2 linked regions of the Homo sapiens genome follow. The protein of the gene in region 1 purifies or fractionates together with the protein of each later gene. This does not show direct contact. Each region holds a gene or a part of one and is shown on either strand. Other genes may lie near its edges.

Region 1 (5,253 bases):
GTTCCCCCTCTGGGTGAAAGCATTCCTTCCTTACCAGCTTACTGCATTGTTCTGCACCCATAGAGGAGGCCCTTATATGCATTCTCCATTGTCTAAGATCATGTTCTCCTGAGGAGTCCTTCACTCACCTCTGCTAGCACACTAGCAGGAAGTGCAAAGGAGCAATCCTCTGGGCCCCACACACCCACCTTAAACTCATTACCCATTTCTTCTAAGAGAATATCAAGATGAATTCCATTCTGCCTCATATCCTGTCTGTACATTTATTTATCTGACTCAATTTCCCAGATGGGTTTTATACTTTTTTTTTTTTTGAGACAGAGTCTAGCTCTGTCGCCCAGTCTAGAGTGCAGTGGTGCCATCTCAGCTCACTGCAACATCCGCCTCCTGGGTTCAAGCGATTCTCCTGCCTCAGCCTCCCAAATAGCTGGGACTACAGGCACCTGCCACCATGCTCAGCTAATTTTTGTATTTTTAGTCGAGACAGGGTTTCACCATGTTGGTCAGGCCGGTCTCGAACTCCTAACCTCAGGTGATCCACCCGCCTCAGCCTCCCAAAGTGCTGAGATTACAGGCATGACCCACCACAGCATGACCCACCATGTCTGGCAGGTTTTATACTTTTCTAAAACCCATCTTCTGCAAGCCTTGGAATACATAAATAACCTTTCATTAAAGTTTTCCCTGTATATTTAACCTCTTCTGAATTTCATCTACCTGTCCTAAATAAAACCTGATTTTCTACCTACAATATCATTTTCCTGCAAATCTCTTGAATAGAGACTGATTTTTTTAAAAATCAGGCCTGGCTTGGTGGTTCATGCCTGTAATCCCAGCACTGTGAGAGCCCAAGGCAGGTGGATTGCTTGCCAGGAGTTCAAGACCAGCCTCGGTAACATAGTGAGACCCTGTGTGTACAAAAATTAAAAAAAAAAAAAAAAAAAAGCTAACTTGTCTTAGTGGCTCACACCTGTAGTCCCTGCTACTCATGAGGCTGAGAGGAGAGGATCACTTGAGCCCAGGAATTTGAGGCTGCAGTGAACTATGATTGCACCACTGAACTCCAGCCTGGGTGATGGAGCAAGACCCTATCTCTAAAAAAATAAAAAATTAAAAAACATTTTAAACAATCCTGCTTGGTCCCCTGGGCTTACTGAATCTGTTGATAGATATTTTTCATCCGTTTTAGAAAATTCTTGGTTCTTTTCAAATAGTACTTCTATTCAGTTCTCTCTTTTCCTTTTGGAACTCCAATCGTACATATGTTAGCTTTTTTTTTCTTTTTCTTTACCTTGTTCTACATGCCTCTTTTGATCTCTTCTGCTTTTTCCCCATTTTCTTCTTTTTGAGCTCAAGTTTGGATCTTTTTCATTGATGGTTTTCAAGTTTACTAATTTTGTTTTATGCTGTGTCCAGTCTACTCTTAAATACATCAAATGAAATCTTAATTTTAGACATGTTTTTCAGTTCTAGAATGACAATTTGATGTTTAAATAAATTCTGATTATTAGAATTATGCATCTTTTCATTCAGTTTGCCTTTTTCTGTTTTCTTTATTTGTTCTCTCCAAATCTGTTAAAATTTGATCCCCAGTGTTGGAGGTGGGGCCCAGTGGGAGGTATTTGAGTCATGTGGGCAGATCCCTCAAGAATGGCTTTGTGCCCTCCCCTGTGATAATTAGTGAGTTCTCCCTCTATTAGTTCACCCAAGAGCTGGTTGTTTAGAAGAGCCTCCCTCTAGCTGTTTCTCTTACTCCTTCTCTTCCCATGTTACATGCTGGCTCCCTTTGCCTTCTGCAGTGAGTAAAAGCTTCCTGAGGCCTTCGCCAGAAGCCGAGCAGATGCTGGCACCATGCTTCTTGTACACCCTGCAGAACCCTGAGCCGCATACAACTCTTTTCTTTATAAATTACCTGGCCTCAGGTATTTCTTTATAGCCGTGCAAAATGGATCAACACACATGTTGATGGTTGTTATTTTAAAATTATTGTTTGTTGCTTATGCCTGTAATTCTAGCACTTTGGGAGGCCGAGGTGGGTGGATCACTTGAGGCCAGGAGTTCGAGACCAGCTGAAACCCTGTCTCTACTAAAAATACAAAAATTTGCCAGGTGTGGTGCACGCCTGTAATTCCAGCTATTTGGGAGGCTGAGGCATGAGAATCGCTTGAACCCAGGAGGCAGAGGTTGCAGTGAGCTGAGATCACACCATTACACTCCAGCCTGGGTGATGGAGTGAGACTGTGTCTCTAAAAAAATAAATAAATAAAATAAATACATAAAATTAAATCATTGTTTGTTAACTTGAATATCCAGATCATTTGTGGGTCTGCTTCTATTGCTTATTTTCTTCTGTTGATAATTCAAGACATTTTCCTGCCTTCATACATACCTAGTAATTTCTTTTTTTTTTTTTTTTTTGAGACAGAGTCTTGCACTGTCGCCCAGGCTGGAGTGCAGTGGCGGGATCTCGGCTCACTGCAAGCTCCGCCTCCTGGCTTCACGCCATTCTCCTGCCTCAGCCTCCCGAGTAGCTGGGACTACAGGCGCCTGCCACCATGCCCGGCTAATTTTTTTGTATTTTTAGTAGAGACGGGGTTTCACCGTGTTAGCCAGGATGGTCTCGATCTCCTGACCTCATGATCCACCTGCCTCGGCCTCCCAAAGTGCTGGGATTACAGGCGTGGGCCACCGCGCCCAGCCCATACCTAGTAATTTCTTATTTTTATTGGACATTGTGTGAGAAAAGAACAATAGAAGTTCCAGATGATATACTCTTTCGCCAGCAAAGGTTCGTCCTTTCCTCTGTATAGGGTACAGAGCTCATGACCTCAGTCCAGGAAGGGACTGATCTGTGTTGAGCTTGGACTGTGGATTTATTTGGGTTCGGTTTACATCTGGTTCATCCCTATTCCTCAGGCATAGCTCTTCTGGGCTTTTGATTGAGAAGCTAGCCAGTCTCTGTCTCCTCAGACTGAAAGATTGTGAGAGATTTGGTTCTGCTCTTCGGAGGTATTTAAGCTTAGCTCTTTAGTTTCCCTTCTAGGCCCTCAACTTTTATATATGTATATATATTCCCCAATTTAAAACTTTTAAAAGTAAACTTTAATATCAAAAATGCAAACTTGGGGAGGGCATAAAAATCACACACAAGGCTGCCACTTCACACTTCGAGGGTTGCACAACGGCCGGGCAAAGGCGCTCCTCACTTTCCAGATGGGGCGGCAACCAGGTAGAGGCGCTCCTCACTTCCCAGAAGGTGCAGCGGCTGGGCAGAGGCGCTCCTCTCTTCCCAGACTGTGGGGCAGCCAGGGAGAGGTGCGCCTTACTTCCCAGACAGTGGGGCGGCAGGGCAGAGGGCCTCCTCACTTCCCAGAGGGGGCGACAGCCAGGCAGAGGTGCTCCTCACTTCCCAGGTGGTGGGGCGGCCGGGCAGAGGTGCTCCTCACTTCCCAGACGGTGGGGCGGCCGGGCAGAGGCGCTCCTCACTTCCCAGATGGTGGGGCGGCTGGGCAGAGGTGCTCCTTACTTCCCAGATGGCGTGGTGGCCGTGGGCCCTCAACTTTAAAATCTGGCAAGTACATTGAAGGTTATGCTGGCTGTATGTTTGAGGCAGGCTTCCTCTTCCTTCCCTGAGATTATGAAAGACTCACTCTGCCTTGTAGGAGTTGATGTTCTAGCTCCTCAGCCTCCTGTGTGAACACTCCCAGAACTCACTGCCTTATGGGAGACAGTGGCCACACTTGGGGCACCTCAAGTTTCTAACCTGTCATGTTACCCCCGTGCCACCACCATAAGCCTATTGGTTTCTCTTCCCATTTGTAGACTTTCTCTGCCTGGGCCCAGCCCTGTCCTCTTTCCTACCCAGAGCTGGCACACGTTCCCAGGGAAAAAAAGCAGCTGTGCATTGTCAGCTCACTTCAGAAAAATTTCCTTCCCCTGGAATTCCATGGCTCGCCAATATCTTTTTTAAATGTGATTTTTGTAATGTGTCTGTTTTTTTCTAGTTGTTGTAGCAGGGTCATTGGACCATGGTGACTTTCCACATCCTACTCAGATATGAAATCCTAGGGAGACTGTCTTGTTTCACTCCTCAGTTTACCTCAGATCTAGAGATAGGTTAGGTGTCTTCCTTGGCTCCCCATTTCCACTTCCAAACTATGTATCTTCCCTCCTTTTTCTAAAGTCTCAGCTTCTTTGTAGTTCATAACATCAGATTTAGCACTCACTGTCTTCATTATGTACCAATCTCTATGTTTTGTTGGTAGCATTAGCATCTGGCTCACCATCTTCCTTTTTCTCTACTCCTGTCATTGTTCTTGTGCCCGCAGTATTCACAGGGATGTTCCGTTCACATCCTTGACCTTTCTTCCAGTTATCTTTGCTTTCACCGTTCCTCAGTCATGTCCTTCTATGGTCATACTCTTAACCATTTTATCCTAAATTGCTGTACCATCTCTGAAATCTCCATTTCTTCATCCACTTATCTCTTAATTTCTTAGCTCACTCACATTGGAGCTTCTACACTAGCACTTCTTCAACTGACTCAAACCACCATTTCATTCAATTATCTTTGCACTGTCAAATATTACTCTTATGTCCTTATTTCTCTCTTTACCCATCTTAGATTCCTTGGTTCATCATTATTGTGGATGTCTATTACCTAAATGTCTTTACAACATTTAGTGATTTAAAATAACAGTATTCATTTTATTATTGCCTCTCACAGTTATGGGAGTTGACAGAATATTATTGCTTGAGATCCCTCATGCACTTACATGTCAGAGTGGCTGAGGTTAAAATCATCTTGAAGGCTTCCTTACCTACATGCCTGGCAGTTGATGCTGGCTGTCGATGAGGACCTCTCCTGAGACTGACAGGTAGAACATCTATGTGTAACATCTCCATGTAGCTTGAGCTTCCTCACAGCGTGGAGGCTGGGTCCCAAAACAGGTGTCCAAGAGACAGAGCCAAGTAAAATCTCCTTTTATAACCTAGCCCCAGAAGTTACTCAACATCACTTTCACTGTATTCTCTTCATTACAAGTGGATTATTAAGACTAATCCATATTCAAGAGGAGAGGAATTAAACCCCACCTCTTTATGTAAGAAATATCATTTGCAGACATGCTTTTAAAATGCCACCACACCATCATTATGATCACTTTCAAATACGATTATCTCCTTTACCTGTTTCTCCCTCTGTCCTATTGATGTGACAAACACCCATCCCTGGTAAAACTCAAATATCCAGCA
Region 2 (4,560 bases), on another chromosome or scaffold:
AAGTTCAGACTTCCACAAAGTCCTGGAATGGACACGATGCAGTCAAGTTCTTTCGTAAGGTATAACAAGGGTGATCTTTGTTCCAGTTTTTAATAAGTTTCTCATTTTGATCTTAGACCTCATTAGCCTAAACTTAGTTGGCCATATTTTTAATCAGCATTTTGGTCAGAATCACTTAACCAATGCCTAACAAGTTCCAGACTACCCCTTATCTTCCCATTTTCTTCTGAACCCTCCTGACACTTCCAAACTGTGCTAATTATCCAGTTCTAAAGCCACTACCACATTTTCAGACATTTTTAGCAATGTCCCACTCCTGGTAACAATTTTCCATATTAGTCCATTGTGCGTTGCTATAAAGTACCCGAGGCCAGATAAAATATGCCGAAAGTTGTTTTGACTTACCATTTTGCAGACTGTACAAAAATCATGGCACCAGCATTTAGTTTTGGTGAGGGCTCAGGAAGCATTTACTCGTGGTAGAAGGTGACAGAGGAGGAAACATATCAAATAACAAGAGATGAAGAGGGAAAAAAAGAAAATGTCAGGCTCCTTTTTAAACCAGATTTCATGTGAACTAATGCAGTGAACACTCATTACCATGGGGAGGGCACCCAGCCATTCATGAGGGATGCCCCCAGGGCACAAACACCTCCCACCAGGACCCACTTCCATCATTGGGGAATTACTTTTTAACATGAGATTAGGAGGGGACAAATATCCAAATTGTATCACCATCAAACTGTCTAAATTATACATTTCAAAATTTCTCTAGATTCTTCTGAATCTAAGTACATGAACCAATCATGTGCACATAAGGTCAACTTCGTTCCATCTTTAGTTTCTGTTGAGATCTTTTCTTCAGTTTTGTGCAGTTTCAATATGTAATATCTAGGAATAGATTTATATTTTATCTGATATTCTTTAATCACTTGAGAGTTTAGAGATGGTCTTTCATAACTTTTGGAAACTTATCAAGTATTTTACATATTGCCTCTACACCCTACTGTGTGATATACTTGGCTATTCCAAGTTGACAATTATGCAATCTAAGAATAAACATTTTCTACTTCTTTGGTAGGTTTTTGAATTCCAGTTGACATCAGAGGATATGAAAGTTCTAGATGGTCTAAACAGAAATTATCGATATGTTGTCATGGATTTGTAAGTAACTTTGGAAAATGGGTTTCCCAGTTTATTTTTAGAGGAGGAATGTCAGATGGGTGTTGAAAGTGACCTCAATACCAGGGAGACAGAGGCCAGTGCAAGTGAGAGGTGAGACAGGAACTCTCTGGAACTCTCCTTCTGGATTCACTCCAGAGCTCTGTTCTCTGACAGGGTGAGTGGACCCAGGGTCAGCATCGGTCAACCTGTGCCTCTGCTCTCCTGACTCCATGGAAATTTCCAGAGCAGCCAATATTATTGCTAAATCTGCAACTTTCATGTAGGCCTGGCATTTCTGCCGTGGCCTAGTGGACAGTAGATATTGCCCATATGGCTTGATTAATGTTTTTCCAAATCTGTACTTATAGCTTTTTCTTCCAAATCCACTCAGTTTCTTATCAGCTAAAAAACATTTCCAACAACACTGGTGTCCATGCCAGAAATTCTCTTCTCTTCCATATGGAATTGCTCACTAGATCATGTCAATTCAGTATCTTTAATTGTTTCAAATTTCTTTCTTCCTTCTCTTTAGACATTTGCTCATGACCCAAACACTGCATTTTGCCTCCAGGAAGTTTGCCCTTAGTAGGCAATAGAACTCTTGGCTTTAATTTTTGCAATATGGAAATCTCAATGCAGAGTATAAAGAAGCTTTAGAGAAGATAGATTAAAAATCAAGGGAAGAGCCAGGCTCAGTGGCTCATGCCTGTAATCCCATCATTCTGGGAGGCCAAGGCAGGTGAATCACTTGAAGTCAGAAGTTTCAGACCAGCCTGGCCAAAATGGCAAAACCCTGTCTCTACTAAAAATAAAAAAATTAGCCATGCATGGTGGCACACACCTGCAAATCCAGCTACTAAGGAGGCTGAGACAGGAGAATCCCTTGAACCCGGGAAGCAGAGGTTTCAGTGAGCCAAAATTATGCCACTGCACTCCAGCCTGGGCAACAGAGCAAGACTCAGTCATTAAAAAACAAAAAAATCAAGGGAAGAGTTGGAAAGTCCCATCTTTGGGGATAATATATAGCTGACAAAAGATCTTACTCTTTTCTATATGCTCCAAGGTTCTAGGATTCACAGAAAGGCACTCATGTGATGAGGGCAAAACAAGTTATGTCACTGCCTGCAGTGGAGATGTTAACAAGTAATAGACATGAGATAATGTATTAAAAAGGATAAGCACAGCAGCACATCATAAGAACTCAAACATTTTTAGATATCTTTATTAGTTTAGAGGAAAATAGTAAAATAGAAAATCATGAAAAGGAAAGGAAGAGTGGCAAACATCAGTAATTCTCACCAATCAATTATTCAATATTAATGAATCATTTATTCATTCTATTTTGTGTGATTTTCACCTAAAGATTGCCCTTAGCATATTGTAGGGTTTTGAATATGGAACCCCATATCACATATGACAATTTACATGTCTGAATCAAAGAAAATATTTTCCATATGGTAAGCAGCTAGTCAGTAATGAATACATTCTTTTAAAAGGATATGTGATTGCTACCAATAACATTTAACCCTCAAAACTTTTTGTTAATGATGAACATATAGCTGGCTTATTTCTATTCAAAACAATGCAAGATGAGTTCCTGCTTTCATTGAGAATTTGAAATAGAAAATGTCAGAATATCTCTTTGCTCTGTTGACAGATATGGAGGACTATGTTTGAACAATTGACCCTGTGTAGTTTGTGTGATAAATTCCAGGCAAGGGAATATAAGTTGAAAATTTTCTTATTTTGAAAAAAAAAAAAAACACATTATAAACTCATGTTCATGAAAGACATTCTACAAATAGTCCGAAAATAAACTTCTTAACATTCACACTAATGGCAGCTTCATATAAATTCACTTTGCTACCAGCTTTTTAATAGAGTCATTTCATCCATATTTATGTACTATCCTTTCTCTTTTCAGTCTTATGGACCATCCTGATTATCCATTTTCAGATGAATATTAGCATAGAGGGTGTTGCACGACATCTAGCAGAAGGCCCTGTGTGTGGATGGTGATGCAGAGGATGTCTCTATGCTGGTGACTGGACACACAGCCTCTGGTTAAATCCCTCCCCTCCTGCTTGGCAACTTCAGCTAGCTAGATATATCCATGGTCCAGAAAGCAAACATAATAAATTTTTATCTTGAAGTAATTGAATGTTTTTCCTTAAAGATTCTTTTCCTACTCCTTTCTCTGTTACTTGTGTGTTTCTTTTCCTTCTAGTTCTTTAAGGCCAAAAACTGATTTGCCTATAAGTTTGGGGCAGAGAGCAGATGATAACCAATATTTTATAGACATTTTTGAGGTGAGAGTAGGTGGAGTTTTCAGCCTCTAGAGGAGAAGCAAGTGACATATTTGTTAGTCTGTCTTTAGCTCTTCCAGAAAGAAGAAAACACACAGCACAGAACCTGAACATGAGCCATATTGACAGGATGACCAACAATTAATGGCCTCCCTCCAGCATCGCAAGAATGGGAGCTCCAGCAACCTAGGGGTGCAGCATCCCTGTGGGGTAATGGTTAGGGAGGTGGGAGGGCACCCATCCAGGAGAAATAATTAGGAGTCAGATATGGGAGAGGTGAGAAGGGAGTTGAGCACATTCTGCTTGGGAAATACAAACACATGCTCTTTTGTTAATTACGTCTTGTGCATAAAAGGAAACTTCCCACATCGTTTTAAGGCTGAGAGCCAGGCCTTGACCTCCTCTGTGTGCCCAGTATCAGCAGTGACCTTGCTGGGCTGTGGTGGAGCAGGACATCAAAGACACCAGTGACTGGCCACATTCTCCTGAATATCAGCTCCATTTAGAACAAATTTTAGATTCTAAAAATATACTCTTAATTTGTTCTACTCAGTCTTTTGAAATATTTCATACATTCAAAAAGGCACACTTACTAATATAAAATATCTGAAAGCCATTACATGTTGTCAAATTAATTTCAGAATTGCAAATACATCTAATTATCCAAAATTTCAAAACTCTTCTGTAAACAGTGTATGTCAATAGCATGATGCTTTCAAACTTTGTAACAATTATTCCTGAAAGTTACTAAAGACACCTAATTGTTCATATAGTTTGTAGGGGTACAAATTTAATCAGCTAGTCAAGAAAATAAAATTTCATTCCAGACAACTTTTTGAAAAGTTGGGACAATGTTATGGGCTACTGGCCAAAGCACTTTGAGACTGACAGGTGTTTATGACCTGTGCACATTTTCCAGTGCTTTTACCCTCCACTGATTTAACCCCATTAGAGGGGTTTCCTTAAGCCATGTCTTTCAGCTGAGAAATATCCTGCCAAGTTTTGTAGTTTACAATATTTCCTAAAATGATTTGTTTCTTAGAAGTGGAAGAGGCCATAAACTTTGGAAGACCCTTGGGTGATCTTTGGA

The links.
Region 2: the proteins of FBXL13 (region 1) and AKR1C4 purify together in Homo sapiens (affinity purification with mass spectrometry, with the first as the bait; one large-scale study listed by BioGRID). This does not show direct contact.

What each region holds. Positions count from the first base shown.
Region 1 is NC_000007.14:103,067,244-103,072,496, reverse strand, and holds part of FBXL13 (F-box and leucine-rich repeat protein 13), read left to right. Parts: intron 1-5,253. UniProt on the Homo sapiens protein: Substrate-recognition component of the SCF (SKP1-CUL1-F-box protein)-type E3 ubiquitin ligase complex.
Region 2 is NC_000010.11:5,215,630-5,220,189, forward strand, and holds the end of AKR1C4 (aldo-keto reductase family 1 member C4), read left to right. Parts: intron 1-1,081; coding exon 1,082-1,164; intron 1,165-3,088; coding exon 3,089-3,131; 3' UTR 3,132-3,320; downstream 3,321-4,560. UniProt on the Homo sapiens protein: Cytosolic aldo-keto reductase that catalyzes the NADH and NADPH-dependent reduction of ketosteroids to hydroxysteroids. Liver specific enzyme that acts as an NAD(P)(H)-dependent 3-, 17- and 20-ketosteroid reductase on the steroid nucleus and side chain.